Linked DNA regions of Homo sapiens: region 1 is linked to region 2. Evidence: fine-mapped expression QTL. Tissue or cell type: whole blood. Region 2 holds a variant in brackets; the other region holds the start of a gene. All regions are shown on one strand. Distances are between the middles of the regions.

Region 1 (8,107 bases), 170 kb before region 2:
CTCCATTACATCCCTGTCCGAGACACTCTGGGAAAGAGGCTGCCAATGAGAGGGAATACGCTATAGGCTTCTGCATCCCACAGGACCCACCCGGAGCTCTGCACAGGGAAAGTGCCCCAAAAATATGGACTGAAATGAATGTACCCAGGGCTGTGACATGGGCAGACCAATGATCCCAAAGCAAATATGGAAACTATTTCTTTTACTATATTTACACAAAAACCAGTTAGACATAGGTTATAAACTTGTTTGGGATTAAAGGATCAACTTTCAGAAGGGGACAAGCACATTAGGAGGAAAAAGAATGCCTCTTTCAAAACCTCCTACAATAGGGAGTGTCTCTAAGAGGGACAGAGATCTCTCTGAACCAATACTAAAGAGCCCCTGAGATCAACAGTGCAAACTGCTCCTGAGATGTGTGACCCAAGTTGAAGTTGACTGTATGGGTAAAACACTTAGGTCAAATTGCACCACTAGATGAGTTTCTTCATTTTAGGCAAAGTTCCAATAATGAAGTGACTGACTTCATGCGGCACACCTTAATTTCCCGGTTGGCAAAAGCACGTGTACAGAAACCCCATATACAGAAACCCCATCGGACTTGTTACCGCAACACGAACGTTTCTGCTTGCATTGTCATAGATGAAGGAAAAAAAAGGAGAACTTATAACACAGAACACCAGCTTCTACTGTGAGTAATATAGGATGAGGGCAAAAGTACTGGATGGATCACAGCCAAATTTCGATATGAAGAACCCACAAGTCGTTACAATTCAATCCGTTCAAACAACTCACATTTCTGGATTGCCCACTGGGCTAGACCCTGGGGGTGGTAAGAGAAGTGAGACCCAAGCACCTCACTGGGTACCCTGCTGCCAAGGAAAGGGCCACCAGGACCTAGTGACTGCAGCCCTAGAGTACAGGCTGGAGTCGAGGCCCAGGAGGCCAGAGGCATGTCAGAGGAAGCTTCTGGCACATCTCCTTTGATATTGCTTCCCTGGCAGGCAAGAGAAGACAACATTTTGGGGAGACTTGCCAACAGAACTCCAGGGGCATGAAAGACCCTGAAGGGGAGGCTACAGAGCCCAGGCTTTTGCATGTAAGCAGTGAGGAACGATGAGGGTTTGGCCCTGGCCGAGTGCAAGATGAGATCTTTGTTTAGGAAGGTCATTCTGTGGCTAGACCAGACGGAGGAGAAACCGAGGGCCAAGGGATCCATTAAGGGCAAAGCAGTAGCCCAGGTAAGAGATGGCGAGGCGAGGCCAGGCGCGGTGGCTCATGCCTGTAATCCCAGCACTTTGGGAGGCCGAGGTGGGCAGATCATGAGGTCAGGATTTCGAGACCAGCCTGACCAACATGGTGAAACCCCATCTTTACTAAATATACAAGAATTAGCCGGGCGTGGTGGCGGACACCTGTAATCCCAGCACTTTGGGAGGCCGAGGTGGGCAGATCATGAGGTCAGGATTTCGAGACCAGCCTGACCAACATGGTGAAACCCCATCTTTACTAAATATACAAGAATTAGCCGGGCGTGGTGGCGGACACCTGTAATCCCAGCTACTCAGGAGGCTGTGGCAGGAGAATCCCTTGAACCCGGGAGGCAGGGATTGCAGTGAGCCGAGATTGTGCCATTGCACTCCAGCTTGGCTGACAGAGTGAGACTCCATCTCAAAAAAATAAAAAATAAAAAAGATGGCGAGGCTTAAGAGGAGGTGGTGGGGCAGAGGCCTCGGGGACCTAAAGGGAGAGGAGTCAAGGGTGACCAGAAGATTCCTAGTTGAGTCACAAATCAATGAAGCCCAGAACTGCTGGAAAGTTCTAGACCTACGGATACTCCCAGTCACAGCAAGGCACCCTGAGATCAGCGCTTTAACATAAAATTGCAATGAGTGTCCTAAAATCCCAGGCAGCTGCAGATTCAGGAGATGATTCCAAGGCTGCCTTTGTACCCTAACAATCACAAGGCTCCTAGCAGCTTACTCTCCATAACGCTCCATGTAGCCCGAGAGCCCTGCATGCTGGAGCTCACCAGACATCCTTATAAAAATCCCAAGGGCCCTTTCCTTTGGATGCAATTCCTCAACTGTAGAATATTAAATAACTCGCCGGGTGTGGTGGCTCATGCCTGTAATCCCAGAACTTTGGGAGGCCGAGCGCTGGTAGATCACCTGAGGTCAGGAGTTCAAGACCAACCTGGGCAACATGATGAAACCCTGTCTCTACTAAAAATACAAAAATTAGCTGGGCGCAGTGGCATATGCCTGTAATCCCAGCTAGTAGGGAGGCTGAGGCAGGAGAATCACTTCAGCCCAAGAGGTGGAGGTTGCAGTGAGCTGAGATTGTGTCATTGCACTCCAGCCTGGGCAACAGAGCAAGACTCCATCTCAAAAAAAAAAAAAAGAAAAAAGAAAAAAAGAATACTATATAACCCCAGGTGTTGCCAAAGATGTTCACTCTGAATTGAACTCCAAAGTCTTCCAGAAGTCTGTTTATCACAAAACAGTCTGTCTCCAAAGTAGAAGCAAAGATAAAGAACTGTTTGTTGAATGGCTGACTGATGTCCACTGCAAGCTGAGCGCATTAACCAAATTTCACTTGGAAGACTATGCATGTGGCAAAATTAAATGCACCAATAGTACTAAATAAAGGTAGGCAGGAAGGCACCTAATGTACTACAATAGCTTGTATAACATCAGCCTCATCCAGTGATCAAGGTGACCAAATAAATTATCTTTAACACACACACACACACACACACAGAGTATAGACTCCAAAGTTTCCATTGTAAGACAAATTCTCTGACACTAGTGCACACTTGATGCCCTGGATCCTCAAGACATCACCGGGTGCCGGGTGCAGGGGCTCACGCCTATAATCCCAGCACTTTGGGAGCCCAAGGTGGGCGGATCACGAGGTCAGGAGTTCAAGATCAGCCTGGCCAACATAGTGAAACCCCGTCTCTACTAAAAATACAAAAAAAAATTAGCTGGATATGGTGCCAGGTGCCTGTAATCCCAGTTACTTGGGAGGTTGAGGCAAGGAGAGTCACTTGAACCTGGGAGGTGGAGGTTGCAGTGAGCCGAGATCGTGCCACTGCACTCCAGCCTGGGTGACAGCACGAGACTCCATCTCAAAAAAAAAAAAAAAAAAAAAAGACATCACTGGTTTTGGTGAGAAGAGACAGCACACATCTGCCTGGCACTGGGCTGCTCTTCTTTGGAGACAGAGGGTACAATTTATATCCTGCAGTTTTACTCAACAGGGGATACCACCAGCAGTTTGGCCAGGGTAATGCTGTATGGGACTGTCCCCTACACCATGTAAATTGGGCATTTACAATTCTTAACCACATCCTCCCAAATGCCAGTGAGTCATTGAGAAAACCTGAAACACCCCCATGCATTTTCAAACGCCCCCTAGGGTTGCCACACTATCTCCGGTGAAGAACCCTCGCAGTATTCACCGATGAAGTTCTTCTCTATAAATACTCTGTTTTCCTACCTGGTAAAAATAATGACTGCCCGTACTTGTCCATCTGATGTGGTATAAAGAAATAATCTTTTTTTTTTTTCAAAGAAGCAACACGTCAAATAAGCCTTCTATGTTCTAGAGTTCACTGCTGTTTTTCAGCAGAAACAAATCACTGAGCTAAATTACAAAGAGACCATAGCAATCTCCAGGGCTTTAAAAGGCTGATGCAGTATTTTTTCTTGGAGAATTTAAAAATAAAATGCAGTTCAAACTCTAGAACCTACAGTGAGGTTTTTCTCATAAATTCTGGAACATCGCAAGTTCTAGAAATCAAGCCCTGAAGAATGAGAGTACCAAGGCAAAGAACCCTCAGAACAAAGATTATGCAAAAGGATCACTGGTGATTTTCTATTTTTACATGAATTATAATGGCAGTGAAATAAAACTTGCCCTTCTGAACTCCACCCCCATACTTGTGCTACGATTATTAAAGTACGTTGCATTGTGAATATACTTTAATTCCAAGACTTTAAGTGCTAACATTTAGACAGAATGTACTAAGTTATATTAATCAAATTTTTAGTATTAAACCTTTCTCTACCATAAAGTAAATCCTTTAAAAAAAAAAAAAAGTCCAATCCTTCTCAACCCAAGAAATATGCCCAAGGGTATCTACAGGAATGGCTGCAGTAACTGGCAAACGCTGGCAGGAATTTTCCAATGACTGAAGTCAACAAATCCTCAGGAAACATGCTCAGACAGATGGCACTTAAAAAAAAGCAAAAACAAAAACAACAAAAAAAAACCTACTGCATTTAGATTTATAGGAAGATTTTTCACTTACTTCAAATTTCTGTATAATCCTCGTTCCTCTAAGTTAAAGGGGGAAAGAAAATCACACTGCAATTCCTTATTTTTCTAATTTAAAAAACAAAACAAAACACGTTATACCCTCGAATCCAGCTTTTGATGTCTTCGAGTATTTTCTTGGAGTCTCTTTCCAATGAATACTACTTTCAAATTCTAAGCACAAAGTAAAATCCCAAAAGTTAGCCCAAATAGCGTTGTACAAAATCAAAGATCACGATGTCAGCAAGCAACTGCATCTATCAGAAGCGATGATGATTCAGAACAGGATAAATTTAGAATGGTGTTTTCCAAAAGGCTTTTTGGATGTCAAATTCAGGAAACAGGTAAAGGCTACATCCCAAAAGTTCCTCTCCAAAAAGAACGCCAAAATATTAATAAAAAGAGTCTTCTTTTTGAAGTTTTTCGTCCCCTAGTGTCCTCGAGGCTGAACTTCCCCAACCTGGCCTCGGTGGAGCCATCCATTACTGGGCAAATCCACATGAAACCTGAGGACACTTCAGCCTGGGGAGGACGCAGTCAGAGCAGTGAAGCAACTTCACATGGGACGGGCCTTTTATGGCCTGAACTCGAGAGCCTTGATACCAGCTCATCTACCAGAAATAGCCCTGGAAATTCAGAGGAGCCCATCAGCTGTTGCAGCAGGCCTGGCCAGCAGCTACTTCAAATGCAATTAGGTTGTCCACACTGTCTTTCAGCTTGTTGTATAGAGAAATTAAAAATACAACAGCAGTCTACTGAATAAGCTACAACAATACAGATTTGGATGAGCAAACATTTCTCTAACTTAGTTTTTTTAGGCTAAAAAAAGAGCACACAATCGTTGACAAAGCTCAGACACTGAACACCCCAAAAGTAAGTAACAGACATATATACAATGAATGCCCGAAAAGTAACTAACAGACATACACATCTATGAAACAGCATGATATAATGGCACATGTCTCTACAAGTTTACAAATTCTGTAACCTCTGTGGATTTCTTCCCACTTCCAATAACTGTAGAAAATGAATCATCAGAAGAAAGCATTGTGCTGGAAGTACTTTCTCGAAAATGACACAAATATTTTCTCTTAAAGCCAAAGTCAGTCCTCTGAACTGGCAAGATCTATCTTCCTATGGCTCTCAGGTAGCTCACCTCACTGAAAAACCAGATGAACCTAACCTAATGAAAAAAATATTAACTATGAAGCACAACCACTTCTTAAATGGCCATATGCATTTTTTTAAACATTAAAAGGCCACTGACATGTTGAATACACTCAAACAAATATCACAACCCTGTTTACAAAATACTTACAATTGTAGGTCTCTGTCCCTGTCGGTACCAAGAACAGAGAGTCTTAATTGTCTGCACCAACTTCAGTATAAACCACAAACCCCATAAGACTTGGGCTGGAGTACAGCAAAAGCTGTGTGCTGCGCGGGGCCTCCCAGTGGTATGCCTCTGGGTGTCAGGGTTCTCAGACCACCAGCTGCTTCGGCCAGCACAGGAGGCCTCTCAAAGCAGGATCTAAATTCCTGTTACTAATTAACCCTACAGAACAATGCCTCTCCCTAAGAGGACAGTCCTGAGGCCAGGTGAAAAGATGACAGGTATAATAATTAAACATTGGCTTCATGACTGTTTTGTGCTAGGGGTATTTGTCCCAGTCAACTGTTTTTTTTTTTTTTTACCCATCTCAAGATAACAAACAAACAAAATTTCATAGCATGGCTTTTGCATCCTAATCTCAGTCCTGACCCTGATCTTCTTTTCCCTTGGACCATATTGGCTTTTTCCTCATTTTAAAGTTTATTTGATCTTGTTTTACGTATTTTTATAAGCTGTGGTAAGCCCCTCCCTAGAGAAAAGTAGGGCAAAAATAAATAAAAACTTACATGAAACAGTTCACTATTTGGGTCTTCTCTGTAAAGAGAAGATAGGAGGAGAAAATGAATCACTGTTACCACAATAGTGCTATTTCCTTCCTAAAAAAAGATTCACTCCCACAAAATAAACATCAGTCTTTTGTGTGCCTCTTAAGTTTTTGCACACTGCTTCCCCATAGCAACCAAACTGTCCTAGATTAATACACTGGAGTCTAATAGGGTAAATCTCCTTCGTCACTTCTTTTATATATCCTTTCTGTCTTTGATTATTTAAATCCCAGTTAATTCTTCCTGTGCAATCCATTTACTTTCCTAATTTTTTTGCTATCTGCCTGGCTTAGAAGACTCATCATACTCACTTCTTTCCAATGATGATAATCATGAATTGGAAGAAAAATCAACACACAAAAGATGTCAATTGTCCCCAAACTGATCTACAGATTAACAAAATTCCTATCAAAATCTTGCAAGGTTTTTTTGTTTTGTTTTGTTTTGTTTTGTTTTTTTGAGACATGGTCTTGCTCTGTTGTCCAGGCTGGAGTAGAGGTGTGCAATCATGGCTCACTGCAGCCTCAACCTCCCCAGGAGGCAGTCCTCCTGCCTCAGCCTCCTGAATATCTGGGGCTACAGATGTGCACCACCACACTGGGCTAATTTTTTAATTTCTTAGTTTTTGTAGAGATGGAGTCTCATTAGGTTGGCCAGGCTTGTCTTGAACTCCTGGGCTCCAGCTGTCCTCCCACTTCGGCCTTCTTAAGTGCTAGGATTACAGGTGTGAGCCACCCTGCCTGGCCTCACAGTGATTTTTGGCAGATATTCTAAAATTTATAGTAAAGGTACAGGCCCTAGAATAGCTAAAAACCATCTTGAAAAAGAAGAAAAAAGTTAGTCTGGGCGTGGTGGCTCATGCCTGTAATCCCAGCACTTTGGTAGGCCGAGGCGGGTGGATCACCTGAGGTCAGGAGTTCGAGACCAGCCTAATGAACATGGTGAAACACTGTCTCTATCAAAAATACAGAAAAATTAGCCAGGCGTGGTGGTGCACACCTGTAATCCCAGTTACTAGGGAGGCTAAGGCAGGAGCATCGCTTGAACCCAATCCTGGGAGGCAGAGGTTGCAGTGAGCCAAGATCATGCCACTGCACTCCAGCCTGGGCCACAGAGTGAGACTCCGTCTCAAAAGAAGAAAAAAGTTAGAGCAATGAATCTATCCCATATTAAGGCCTACTGGATAACTACAGTAATCAAGACAACACAGCATTGGCAAAAAGAGAGACACATAACATAGATCAGTGGAACAGACTGGAGAACCCAGAGACAGGCCCACATGAATATGCCAAACTGATTTCTGTGCCATTCAACAAACAGTGCTAGAGCAATTAGACACCCCTAGGCAAAAGCAATGAGCTTCTACCCAATCCTCATTGTGGTACATCCATACCATGGAATACTACTCAACAATAAAAAGGAACAAATTATTAGTACGTTCCACGACCTGGATAAGAATCCAGGGAATTAAATTATGCTGAGTGACAGAAAGCCAATCCCAAAATGTTAGATACTATACGAGTACACTTACATAGCATTTCCCAGATGACAACATTATAGAAATGGAGAAGAGATGGGAGTTGTTAGAGGTTAGGGATGGGGATGAGGTGGTTTAACAGGGCCACATGAGAGACCCCTGTTCTGGAACTCTTCTATTGGATTGACCACATCAGTGTCAATATCCTGGTTGTGATACTATTGTATAGCTTTGCAAGATGTTATCACTGGAGAAACTGGGTAAAAAGCCCTCATGATCACTTTGTACTATTTCTTACAACTACATCTGAATCTATAATTATCTCAAAATTAAAAGTTTAAGCAGGGCGGGGTGGCTCACACCTGTAAT
Region 2 (8,107 bases):
AGTCATCCATTGATGAAAAAAGATGACAGGCTCTCTAAGCCTTATAAATCATAGAATACTGGCCAAATAAATACAGCATAAAGTTGGTTAGGAAGGATGAGATTTGAAAATAGATGCAAGGTAGGTAAAGAATGTTCGTGCTAGACCCGAATAGCATACGTTTAAGTCTCTCGTTACAATGGAAGTGTTGAAAAGAATTAGAAATGAATTATATACAAATGGGCAGAAAAGACAAGAAGATACCTGCTCCAGGTAAGATAGGGCAGAAATTAGAAGCCTCGCTTACCAGGAGTGTAAAGTGTGATTTTAAGAACTCTCTGGAAGGCCCTGGCCTGATAGGAGATGAACAGCTCCCTGCGTGGGAAGTCTTTGCTTGTGTCACTAGATGATCCATCTCAACTATCCTAAGGGGTGACCCCATGGAAAATGGACCAAAGGGTAATTCCATCATATCTATCAAAATGTAAAATGCATACAGCCTTGGTGCAGCAATTCAACTCCAAGGAATTTGTCCAACTGATATACTTCCAAGTATGTACCAAATACATGTAAAAGGATGCATTGTAGTATTTTTTTATAATTACAAAATAATAGAAATAACCTAAATGTCCATATGTGGGGGACCTTTATTCCAGTTTCCCATAAGTTTCTCATTTCCATCTGAGGCCTTGTCAGCCTGGCCTTTGCTGGCCATATTTCTATCAGTATTTTGGTCACAACCATTTTAACTAGTCTCTAAGAAGTTCCAAACTTTCCCTCATCTTCCTGTCTTTTCCTGAGCCCTCCAAACTCTTCTAGCCTCTGATCATTATCCAGTTCCAAAGTTGCTTCGACATTTCCAGGTATCTTTCTAGCAACACCCCACTTCTTGGTACCAATTTTCTTTGTTAGGTCATTTTGCATTGCTAAAAAGAAATAACTGAAGCTGGGTAATTTGTGGAGAAAGGAGGTTTCATTGACTCATGGTTTTGCAGGCTGTGCTAGCATGGCACCAGCATTTGCTTAGCTTCTGGGGAGGCCCTCAGGAAGCTTACAATCATGGCAGAAGGTGAAACTGGAGCAGGAACATCACATGGCAAGAGCAGGAGCAAGAGGGAGGCAGAAGGTGCCACAGCATTTTAGATAACCAGATCTCATGAGAACTCACTCACTATCATGAGGACAGCACCAACACCAAGACATTCATGAGGCATCTTCCCCTAAAACCTCCCACTAGGCCCCACCTCCAAGCTGGGGATTACATTCTTTTTTTTTCTTTTTTTGAGATAGGTCTCATTCTGTCATCCATGCTGGAGTGCAATGGTGCGATCAAAGCTCACTGTAGCCTGGAAACTCTAGGCTCAAGCAATCCTCCCACCTTAGCCTCTTGAGTTACTGGGACTATAGGCATGCATCACCACACCTGGATAATTTTTTTTTTTTTTGTAGATATGGGGTTTTGCCATGTTGTCCAAGCTGGTCTCAAACTCCTGGGCTCAGGGGATCCTTCCACTCCTGCCTCCCAAAGTGCTAGGATTACAGGCATGAGCCACCACATGTGGCCAGGGATTACATTTCAACATGAGATTTGGAGGCAACAAACATCCAAACTATATCAAGTAAGAAAGGCAAGAAGGGCTAGGAGTCTAGCTCATGAAAAAGTAGGGTAATGGGTAGTAGGGACTGGCTCACTTGGAGTTTTGTGAGCCATAGTAGTTTGGATTTTATCCTCACTTCAGTGGGAGGCATTGGAGGATTTAAGCAGACGAGTGATATGATCTGATTTACATTTTCTGGAAGATCACTCTGGCCACTGTGGGGGGAGGATTTCAGTGAGATGAGTGTAATCAGAGCAGCTGGAAGGCTGCTGAGATACCCCAGGTGAAAGATGACAGCGGCTACAATGGTGAGATCCTGGGAAATGGTGAGAGGTGATGGGTGTGGGGTGTATTTTGGAGGTGGAGCCCATAGGACTTGCTGATGTGTGGGAATGAAGTAAAACAGAATCAAGAATGACTCCTTGGTGTTTGTCCTGAGCAACTGGGCATATGGGGGTACCATTTAGTTCAGAGGGGGAAGATTCTGGAAGGACCAAGTTTGGGGAAGAAAGGGGAGAAAAAGATCAAGTGTTCTGTCTGGATCCTGTTCAGTTTAAGACTCCAATTCAACACTCAAGTAGAAACTTCAAATATGTAGCTGAAAAGGTTATTGTTACAGATGAAAATTTGAGAAAGAATGATTTAGAATTAGATGGTGACATGGTTTGGTTGTGTCCCTACCCAAATCTCAACTTGAATTGTAGTGTATCTCTAAATTCTCACGTGTTTTAGTAGGGACCCAGGAGGAGCAAATTAAATTGTGGAGGCCGGTCTTTCCCATGCTATTCTCACGATAGTGAATAAGTCTCATGAGGTCTGAAGGGTTTATCAGGGCTTTCTGCTTTTGCTTCCTCATTTTCTCTTGCCACTGCCATGCAAGAAGTGCCTTTTGCCTCCCACCATGATTCTGAGGCCTCCCCAGCCAAGTGGAACTGTAAGTCCAATTAAACCTCTTTTTCTTCCCAGTCTCAGTTATGTCTTTATCAGCAGGGTGAAAACAGATTAATACAGATGGCTACACATAACAAACAATCCTAAATATCAGTGATTTACATAAGCCCAGGTTTTTCTTCTTTTCCACTTAATGAAAATCTGGAGCTAGGCAAGTAGGGGCTGATATGGGGTGGGGGGGGGGGTCCAGTATTGGCAAGGAAGCAGGCACTTGTCTTTTAGCTTTATCATCCTCAGCATGTGTCTGCCACCCTTAAGGTTACCCATGGTCCAGTAAGTAGGGACTATGGAGCTTTTATCATTAATTCCACATCCCAGGTAGTAGGAAGACTGTGGCAAGGATCAAAGCTGCAGCTGCAGGTCCCTTTGAAGAGCCTTCTTTTTTTTTCTTTTTTTTTTTTGAAGACAGGGTTTTCCTCTGTTGCCCAGGCTGGAGTGCAGTGTTGTGAACACAGCTCACTGCAGCCTTGACCTCATGGGCTCAAGTGATCCTGCTGCCTCAGCCCCCTAAGTAGCCAAGACTACAGGTGCACACCACCACACCTGGCTAATTCTTGTATTTTTTGTAGAGATGAGGTTTTGCTATGTTGCCCAGGCTGGTCTCGAACTCCTGAGCTCAAGAGATTTGCCTGCCTTGGCCTCTCAAAGTGCAGGGCTTACAGGTGTGAGTGAGGAGCCTTCTTTACATGCTGTCTGACATGTCATTGTTCAGAACTTAATTACACGGTTGCAAGGGAATGTGGTAAGTGTAGCCTTTTCATAGGGTGCCTTGCAGCCCTTAATAACATCTGTCATTAGATTTCTAAATAATGGGTACAGTCTTGGCTATAAGAGTCATCAGTGCAAACAGTGTTTACAGCCATGGCATTGGACGATGACGTGATCGGCAGAGGAAGGGAAACCAATCACAGAGGTGCTCATCCACAGCTGTAACGTGCCTCTGGCTCACAGAAACATGGAGCACCAGAGCTTGGCTTGGCTTGTATTGGTCATTCTTTGTCTTATTCCTGGGCCATGCATTTTTATAGCACGTGTTTGTCCTTTTCCTTTTGACCTACTTTACCCTTATACAACCTAGTTGAGTTTTATGCACTCTTTCAAGAAGCCCTTCTAGAACACGACTGTGTATAAATAAATAACAAACAAAGCTTTGATCAGTCTTCCTCTGTCAGAATGGGGAAAGAAGGCGAAAGAAGTAGAAAAAGAGGAAGTAGAGGAAGGGAAAGGGGCAGGAAATGAGTGGAAAGCAAACTGAGTGATTGAGGAGATTTTTGTTGGGGGTCGGGGAGATGCCTCAGAGCTTGTGTATTTACATGAGTCATCTGGACACGCTGAAACCCAG[T/G]TTCAACTTGAAGGGTTCCTCTCCAACCAACTGCTTCCTGGGGTCTGTCTGGAGAGTTACCAGAAGGTAATCTTCAACTAGAAGTGATTATTAGGTGGGCATAGGCAGCTGTTGTTGGCAAAGGAAATGCATTTCTTTTTGCTTACCTGTGACCAGTGGTTTGAGTCTCATGGAAGAAGCTCTCAATGATAGAAACTGAAGTCAGTGCCACATATGTAATTATATAAAGAACTTTGTGATTGCAGCTCAGGAAATGGTCTGGGTTTCAGACGTCCTCTGTCCTCACTGATGATGGCTGAAACTGAGGGTTTCAAAGTCTCTGGTTGGTGCCAGAGGGTACAGTTGGGTACAGAAAAGTGAGGAAATACTCTGGAGTCAAATAAAAATGCAAGAAGCAGAGAGCTTTTGAGGATATACAATGTGACGCTTAATGTTTGTCTTCCTTAAATGTCCTCAGTGCCACCATGACTAAGTTCTGGAAACAGAGAATCCTGTTTTGATTCTGTGACTCAGAGGGCATAATATGTTGGCTCTTTGCCCTGGGGCCCAGGGTATCCAGTGAAGCAAAAACAACTAGGCTACAGCTGCACTTCCCTGTGCTGCATGCTGCAGGGGCTGGAACCAGAAAGGCCACAGGGAATCTGAGAAAATTCACTTCTCTTAAGCTTCTCACTATTTCTCCAAAGCAAAGACAGGAGGGCTGCTGCCAGGACTGTGAGAGTTTGTACAGTATTGTGGTGCAATTGCAAAAGGCGTGCTTTCTCCTGGCAGGTGCAGCCCCCACACAGGGCTCAGCATGTGGTTAGTGGAGAACAGGCTGGATTTAGGTCCCCATCCTCCCTCTCAGCAGAGCATCCCTGCAGAGAGAAAAACCCACACACCCACCCACCTGTGGTAGCGCTGGCTGCTACCTACTTCACACATCCTGCCTGATAAGGTTTGGCTGCGTCCTCACCCAAATCTCACCTTGAATTGTAACTTCCATAATTCCCAAGTGTTGTGGGAGGGACCCAGTGGGAGATAATTGAATATGGGGGCAGTTTCCCCCATACTGTTCTTGTGGTAGTGAGTAAGTCTCTTGAGATCTGATTTTTATAAGAGGTTTCCCCTTTTGCTTGGGTCTCATTTTCTCCCTTGTCTGCCACCATGTAAGATGTGCCTTTCACCTTCTGCCATGATTGTGAGGCCTCCCCAGCCATGTGGGACTGTGAGTCAATTAAACCTCTTTTTCTTTATAAATTACCCACTCTCAGATATGTCTTTATCAACAGCGTGAAAACGGACTAATACACTGCCTGTCACCACTGGGGCTGTCCCAATGCTTCATGCCCTTGGAGTGGTGGCCTCTGAAGCAGAGTTTAGTGTGTAGCATGTGTCTGAGGCGTGTGCTTGAGATCAACTCCCGTGGCAGGGAGACAGAAGGCAGGAGAGTGCGAGGGAGAAGTCAAACTGTGATGAAATCTGATGATGGCCTTGGGCAGCCCTGTGGGGAGCCCTGGAGCTAGAATGTTCTCCAGTGTTGGACCAAGCTGGTCAGGCCTGTATCCCTCTGTGGTTTAGGGTAAAGCCGCTCTTCAGCTAAGATGAGTCCTGAGTTGGGGCAGCTGACAGCTGACACCCAGCCACCAGCATGCCCAGTGGTGGGGGCAACAAGTCTGTCCATGAAGGGAGATATAGAAGGCATGTCACAGTGTCTGCCACACCACCCCAAGGCTGCCCTTTAATAACCTAGTTTTCTGCTTCAAGGCTTCCCTTGATATTAAATTTCATCAGAGTTCTACAGCATGCCAAGATTTGAGGGGCAGGATAAAAAAATCACCCTACTGTCAATGCCATAGGCATTGCCTAACCATGATAATCAGAGAAAGCCGCTTTTACCCTAGTGTCTCTCAATTTTGACCCCAAATTAAGCATAATGCCAAAAGAAACATTTTGGGACTCTCTGAAAGGTCTAGGAAGGGAAGAAGCTTGCTGGGTGCATTCTGCAGGGACATCAGTTTACTGTCCACACTTTTTGTGGTCCATATCTTCTCCGAGGCCCTCATGCTGAGAAAATCTCACAGGAATCCCATATTCAGCCTCAGGGGAGGAAGGTCCGTGCGAAACACAAGAAGGAAGATGATTGGGGGCCGTGGAAGAGAGAGGCAATGTCACCTTATCCCAGGAGACCTCCAGCAGGTCCCTGGAAACAGGGGCAGGGGACAGGGGTGAGGCAGGGTGGGGAGCCCTAGATCCCAGGCCAGACCACTCGGTCAACCCCTGGCCTTGCTGCCCATGAGGTCTGCAGCTGTGGGAAAGTTCCTTAATTGTTCCATGCCTCAGTTTCCCCATCTGAGAAATTAGGATTGATAGTACCAACCTCAGAGGGCTCCTGCCAGGATGAACTCACACGAATCCCTTGAAGAGGGCCTGACCCGCACTGCACTCAGGAGCTGTGGCTACAAGAATGGGAGCAAGAAGGAAGGATCCCCTGAGTCTGGGGGTTGAGACAAGGCCAGTTCCTTCCCCACGGAGCCAACTTCATTGGAAGAGAGCTGCTCATGGGTTCAGCCTCAAACAGAAACATTCTGGGAAGCTCTCAGATGGTTCTATGTAATTGTTTAGCCAATTAGAAGTGATTCAGAAGGCAAATTTTGCTCTAATAAACAGAGCAATTTGTGAAGGGTTTTTGGTTCTGGAGAAAAAACTCTAAAACATCAATATTGTTACTAATGCTACAGAGAAACAATGACCCATACTCTGAATCAACACACTAATTTGTAAACCTCACAGACTCAGCCTTGAAATTCCTGTTTTATTGAATTGCCCTCTGAAACAAAGGTTATTTTTAAGCAACGTTTAGTAAACCAATTTAAGTGGGAATAGAACTCCTGAAATGTCAGAGGTGGGTCACTCCTGCAGTACAAAGATAGCCTAGCTTAATAGTTAACGCTGTTCACCAGAATCCAACTACCTGGGTTCTGGTCCTAGCTCTGCCTCACACCAGCTGTGTGATCTTGGGCAAGTTACTTAACCTCTCCGAGCCTCTGTTTGTCTCAAATATGAAATGGAGATGATAATACTAGAACTTTACACATGACTTATGGTGAGACTGGAAGCAGACAATGTAGGTAAAGTCACAGCAAACCCTCATTAATTAGTACTATATAGTGATACACAGAATGCAGAGTAAAATATAAGGTATGATAAAGAAAGCATGTGCACACACACACACACACAGTGTTCACTGCATTTGCACCCTATAGTAGAAACTATTAGGTAGGCTATGCTTCACTTACAAAACCCTCCAAATCTCAGTGGCTTATGTGAGACAGAGACAGAGAGAGAGAGAGAGAGAGAGAGAGAAAGGAGAAGAGTTATAGAGAGAGAGAAAGAGAAAGAAAGAGAGAGAGAGGAAGAAAGAGAGAGGAGGAGAGAGAAAAGAGAAGAGGTAGAAGGGAGGAGAGATAAAGAGATAAAGATAGAGAGAAGAGAGAGAGAGAAAGGAGAAGAGAGAAAAGAGATGGAGAGAGAGAAAGGAGAAGAGATAGAGACAGATAGAGAATGAGAGAGAGAGGGAGAGAGAGATTTCTCCTTCATAAACCATGTTGAGCACACATTGCTGGGTGGACACCGGTTACCTTCTCCAGCCACAGTTGCAGAGAGGAAAAAGGAGGTGGAAAAACACATGGCTTCTGTTCATAGTGCACCAGCCAGAACAAGTCATATGGTCATGTCAAACTTCAGGGAAGTGGGGATATGAAATTCACCCTCTGCCTAGAAGTATGGGAATCAGACATTGGACAGTAACAATGAGAAGCACACACCCAGAAACACAGATCAACCTCTCTGGAATTTCCTCAGGCAATTTTTGCGTCTCAGCACATAAGTGAGAAGTGAGTCTCCCTCTCAGACAAAGGACACACCCTCTACTAATGACCTCTTAGGGCCATCCCTATTTTCTGTCCTGCCTGTAATCTGGGTGGTTTTGGAAGATTTTTTTTTAAGTTACTGATGACTATACAGTAATACTGTTCAATAAGCAGTATGTTTAGTGATATTCTTGAATTCTAATTTTTTGCTGTAATTTTGACCGCAATGAGGTCCTCACCATTGGAATTCATAGAAGAAATGCTGAGGAGCTGATCAACAATTTCTAATGTAACATTTAAAGCAAAGGAAAAGCTAGGCACTCTAGTAACCAGGGCTCGCTAATTTTTACCTTTTAAGATTCATCTTAAATCCCCTCAATTTTTAT

The links. PIP is the estimated chance that this variant, and not a neighbour inherited with it, causes the effect.
Region 1: SVIL starts here. The variant in region 2 is fine-mapped to the expression of SVIL in whole blood (INTERVAL, PIP 0.94).

What each region holds. Positions count from the first base shown.
Region 1 is chr10:29,630,102-29,638,208 of GRCh38, forward strand. It overlaps SVIL (supervillin), which reads right to left and starts at 4,870. Exons shown (of 38, transcript NM_021738.3): 1 at 4,319-4,870. RefSeq lists a silencer at 4,679-4,973.
Region 2 is chr10:29,799,965-29,808,071 of GRCh38, forward strand. No RefSeq gene overlaps it. Among named protein-coding and RNA genes, the nearest start is that of SVIL, 170 kb to the left of the region's middle. The variant T/G (reference allele first, on the strand shown) is at 3,871.